2 separate regions of the Homo sapiens genome follow, and region 2 is linked to region 1. Evidence: fine-mapped expression QTL. Tissue or cell type: testis. Region 1 holds a variant in brackets; the other region holds the start of a gene. All regions are shown on one strand. Distances are between the middles of the regions.

Region 1 (2,767 bases):
GATATATGAGAAAACTCTCTCTACATCTGCTGTTTCTCAAATACCCATTTCATTTTGCCTATGCTAGTACTAGTTTATCTTCTTGTAGCTTAATTCCTGTGCTAAGAATTGGTAAGATTTAGAAACTGACTATGTAAGTCAAGATAATCAGTTTCACCTTCTTACAAACATTAACTGGCTATATATACTCTGACAGAAATACTATTAGACTATAGCCTTATGAAGAAAGCTGACTTCTATATATTTAAAAGTTACCTTTGATAGATCCCTGAAGTTTCCTGGAAGAGTCAGGTCCAACTCTTCTGATTCATAGTTGGTTAACACCCACGGAAACACTGGATATTGGTTCAGATCATTATATGTCCGTCCTAGTAAAGAAAAACAGAAATAAAAATTTGTACACACAAAATGCTTATGAAATAGTTTCTGTTTTTACAAAGCATCTACTGAATTTCAGAAGAAAATAACTTTTTATTTATTGAACCGTATCTTTAACTCTGATAACAATGCATTTCAAGGGAATTCACTCAATAATTGTTTTAAGACGTAACTAGAATTACTATTTATAAGACTGTGATAGAGGCTACTGGCTGGTTATTGTAATTGATTCTCCTCTTCCTGTGTTACACCACATTTCTCAGCCTCCCTTACAAGTAGCTCTGGCCACAGGATTTAGTTCTCATCTACAGAATGTGAGCAAAGTCTCTTCAAGACTTGGCCCACTGAAACTTCCTGCATGTGTGTCTCATCTCTCTTCTGCTGATGTAGATAATATTGCAACCCCGGAAGCAGAGCCTTGCCAGTCAGAGGCCCTGAAAGTAATTATGGAGGAAGTCACCCCACTGACCTGCACATCTGCAGCTTATGTGGTGGTATTCTATTTTATCTTTTATTTATTTATTTATTTATTTTGAGATGGTGTCTCCCTCTGTCGCCCAGGCTGGAGTGCAATGGCGCGATCTTGGCTCACCGCAACCTCTGCCTCCCGGGTTCAAGCGATTCTCCTGCCTCAGCCTCCTGAGTAGCTGGGATTACAGGCACG[C/A]GCCACCGCACCTGGCTAATTTTTGTATTTTTGGTAGAGATGGGGTTTCACCATGTTGGCCAGGCTGGTCTCCAACTCCTGACCTTGTGATCCATCTGCCTCGGCCTCCAAAAGTGCTGGGATTAGAGGCCTGAGCCACTGCACCTGGCTGTGATGGTATTCTATTATAATGAATATATATCTAGAAATTATATTATGAGTACACAGAATACTATGTTAAACTTATATCAAGAATGAATGCAGAGAATTTGCGAGTGGACAGAAGTACTCTGAAGCTAGGATGAGAAACTACAGAGGCAGATGTCAATCATACATTTTTTCACTCCTTAAGTTCATGAAATATTTTTTTGTCTTATGTTGTTTCACTTTAGCGAAGAACTGCTCGATCTTAGGGTGAATATGTCTGCTTATGTTTTGGTAGAATGACTTAAATATTTCAGGTATGATATTGAGGCACAGTGGGAATGGGGAAAGTTTAGGGGAGCAAGCTGCGGCCCCCCCTCATAAACTGAAACTGAAAAAACATGATCAGGTGAAATTAAGAGAATAGCTATTAAAGAAACAGGATCCTAAGAAAACTTTTGTTGAACAAAATTATTTTTTATAAAAATGCGTTATGATCCAATTATCAGTAATTTTCTAAATTTCCATTAAAATTCACACAAAACAGCTATTTCACTGGTATTTAGTGATATGAGTTTCATCCAGTATGCCATGGTTGCACACACCACATGTACTATCACAGTAGCATAGATATGCAGATATTATCTTGTTCATCATCAGGAAATTACATTAAATGATATCTGCTCTTACAGCATTTGGAAAACATAACTGTGAAATAGAAAAAAAAAGAACTACAATCTGAGTAAGAACCAAAATCTGTAATTGCAAGCACCAAACCAAATTAATTAATATATTTAGAAAACACTTTATTGATGACTATTTTATCTGTTTATTATATGAAGCTTTGCATTTTACAACTAAACTGCATATTGCTTTAAATGTATAAACTGGTGTGGGTATGTAATATAGGTGTGGGTATGTAATATAGGTGTGGGTAATGGCAGCAGAATGTTGCTTCCACTTTGCATTTACTGGGATGAGGTTACAGCTAGGTTAGGGCTTCCCCTGTGTTGCCTCACCACAGTTCTCATACAGACCTCTATTACACCTGATATACATTGCTGTTTACTTCTCTGCCTCTCCACCAGTCTGTAAACTCATAAATGTCAGGGCTGGGTTGTTTGTTTGTTTGTTTTAATCTCTGTGTGTTGGCATATGCCATCTGCCCAATAAATGTTTGTTGATGGAATGGATATGCATGTGATAAAAATGGAATAAAATGACCCAAATTTCAGAAGATGAACAAATATAAGTCAAGTAAAGGAAAACTGCAGAACATTATCTTTAGAAGACGAGGATTATGCAAAGGCGTAGAGGTATATATGAGAGAGAATGATATTGTGAATGTCTACATTAAACGAGAAGAAAACATCTACAGCTAGGTAGCTCAAGCAATCAATGAACCTGCTTGTGTTTAAGTCTATGGTGAATAATACTAATGATGAGATTAAACAAGAGTTCGGAGCCATATTAAAGTCTTTTGACATGACAATAATCTGCTAAAACAGTACCAATATTGTAAAATAAAAGCTGTACAATTCTAAACTTGAAAATTTATTACTAATAGTTCATATGTATGCTAACCTAGGACACCTGATAGGG
Region 2 (2,767 bases), 130 kb before region 1:
AGCTGGAGAGAAGAAAGTTTCAGATGGAAGGGGAGCATTTTCCCTCTGAAATGAAATAATTGTGATACAGGATTTGATTTTTTTTAAGAAAAACAATCTTCTTCCTGCTGTGATGAATTTATTCTGGAGGTTTGAAAGGAAACATGTCCCCCCTGAGAGCATGAGGACGATGAGTCTGGAGGGTGAAGTCTGCGATTTCAGTACACGTGTTCTCATTTATCAAGGGGCGGTGCTCGGGTGTGAAGGGGGAGAATACCAAGGGTGAAAAGATTCAAGGTGATCAAACTATTTTTCCATTTGTAGCAGAAAAAAAAGAAAGAAAGGAAATAAAAGAGGGAAGGAAAATCATTTCATTATGTGGCAACCAAACACAACCAGGGGTAGCAACCAGAGGTAGCAAGCAAGTAGCAACTTTGTTCTTCAGAGCAGTTCACTCTAGGGTGTCCTGAGTTTTCCAGGGTGCAGTCTGTGACTGTGGAATTTGAAAACAGCAGGAGCACAAGAACAGAAGTTGCATGGATGTCTAGAGTTGTCATCTCTCGAATGCCCTCTGCGGCGAAGATCCCTCCTAGCGCCACCTGGATGAATCACTTCCAGGGGAAAGTGGAAAAAGAAAACTATTACATTGGACATTAATTTCCATGCTAGGCATATTATATGCATTTCTTTCTCTCTGAATAAAGTCTGCAAAATAGGTATGATTTTCCCCATTCTAGAGATAAGCTGAAAGTTTCAATTATCTTATGCGCCCTGTTCAAAGAGGCCCAGCTGGCAGTGGAGGTGAGATGGAGTGAGCTAGCAGTGGAGGTGAGATGGAGTGAGCTAGCAGTGGAGGTGAATTGGAGTGGGGCCTGTCTGCCATCAGCACCAAGTCTTGTTTAATTATTCCACTCTGCCTTCCCAAGATGTCCCTGACATGTTAGGTGGAGTTCTGAAGGTCCGTTTAGCAACACAGGTTAAGGCCTAAAGGATCTCCCTCCCTCCATCGCTTAAATGCTATTTTTATGTATTTATTTATTGTTGAGACAGTGCCTCACTCTGTCACCCAGGCTGGAGTATAGTGGCGTGATCATAGCAAGTGAGCAGCCTCAATCTCCTGGACTAAAGCCATCCTCTAGCCTCAGCCTCCTGAGTAGCTGGGAGTGCAGGCATGTACCACCGTGCCCAGGTAATATTTTATTTTATTTTTTTTTTGTAGAGATGGGAGTCTTGCTATGTTTCCCAGGCTGGTCTTGAATTCCTGGTCTCAAGCAATCCTCCCATCTCAAAATCCCAAAGTGCTGAGATTATAGGTGTGAGCCACCGCACCCAGCTTTAAATGCTATTAAACAAGGGAAATCAGTAGGTTGGGTAGATGTACTCAAAGGGCAGGAATGAGAACAACACACTGAGACTCATTTGGGGAACAGGAGCTGTGCCTTCAAGTCACTGTGGGGTAAGGCAGAATGGAGCGAGTCCTAAGGGCCCCCTAACGCACCCAGTATGTGATATGTGATAGAGAGAACGGTTACTCATCACCACTGGAGATTAACAAGGTCTCATCTGCTCGTCTGGTCGCTTGGCTATGCTGTGACACCTGACACTGGCTGATGATCCGAGGCTTTACCAGCTTTAGAACACACCTATGTGTGAAAGCCTTGGGCTCTGAACCTGATCCACTCCCCGGGGGCCCTTCAAAGGGTTAACACTGACCTTCCCCGTCCAGACCCTTACCATGGGGCCACAGCCTTATCTAAGGAACTTGGTCCCACGCCCTCCACCCTCTGCCCTCCATGAGCCTTTCTCTCAGGCTCCTCCACAGAGGGACACTCATAAAATTCCTGTTGGTCATCACCACATTCCAGAATTCCTCCGTGGTCACAGACTGGGCCTCACCTTGACCCTGAGTGCTGGGCTGCAGAGAGTTGAAATCCATCCCCAGGTTCCCCGTAGTTCAGGTGAGAGAGCGGGATGGAGCTGTCCCAAGCCCAGGCCTCTGCAGTTGTTTGAAACCTGAGCCCGTGCTTTTCTTTGAAGTTTAAATGTGGACCTATTGTTTTTTCCTGATAATAATAAACAGGGTCAGGAGAGAGGAAGGCAGATGAGGAAAGAGGAGGAGGGCAGGCAGCAGTCTTGTCAAGTAAAATTACCCCAACTCTGCCTTTGAAGGGGCGCAGCCTTGGTTCTGCGGTCGGCATGAGAGTGAGGGGACTGGCCAGGCAGGGTGGGATTTGCAAAGAAATCAAGGGTCCTGAAATGTGGTCACCGAGGGAAAGGGGATACGCAGCCGTCCAATAGGAGGACGGGCCATGGTCCTGCCGGACATGCCAGGGCAGCCTGGGCTCTGGCTGCAAATGTGACCTTCCAGTCCCTCTCATTGCCTATTCACTGCCCCCAGGAGGTGTCCTCCGCCTCCAGTGAGTGACTCCAAACCATGAGTTTGTTTGGGCTAAAACCCTTCCCTCCCCTTAAAGTGGCAGAAACAAATGTTTGGAAACAAAGGTGAATTGAGAGTGACAGCTCGTGACCTGGCTCTGGTGCATGTTGAGCCAGTGTCCAAGCGGCCACCGGACACTGTGCCATCAGGCCAGAGTTGATTTCCTGCAGACTGTGACTCTGAGAAGCAGCCCAAACCGCCCACCTCTGTTCAGAGGAGACAGGCTCTCCCCACAGGGTGAGCGTTTGTGTTGCCTGAGAATCCATGAGCCCCGTGGCACTGCTCCTAGCACAGGAAAAGCAGACAGAATGTGTGCGGGGTGAGAGCCCGCAGCAAGGTGGAAGCCCTTTC

What was found. PIP is the estimated chance that this variant, and not a neighbour inherited with it, causes the effect.
Region 2: it holds the start of LINC00445, and the variant in region 1 is fine-mapped to the expression of LINC00445 in testis (GTEx, PIP above 0.99).

What each region holds. Positions count from the first base shown.
Region 1 is chr13:35,564,506-35,567,272 of GRCh38, reverse strand. NBEA (neurobeachin) reads right to left here. Exons shown (of 59, transcript NM_001385012.1): 45 at 256-368. Among named protein-coding and RNA genes, the nearest start is that of MAB21L1, 89 kb to the right of the region's middle. The variant C/A (reference allele first, on the strand shown) is at 1,043.
Region 2 is chr13:35,696,562-35,699,328 of GRCh38, reverse strand. LINC00445 (long intergenic non-protein coding RNA 445) reads right to left here and starts at 1,602. Exons shown (of 2, transcript NR_132115.1): 1 at 1,478-1,602; 2 at 73-590. LOC124903224 (a long non-coding RNA gene) reads left to right here and starts at 1,875. Exons shown (of 2, transcript XR_007063891.1): 1 at 1,875-1,937. RefSeq lists enhancers at 1,656-2,251, 2,252-2,767.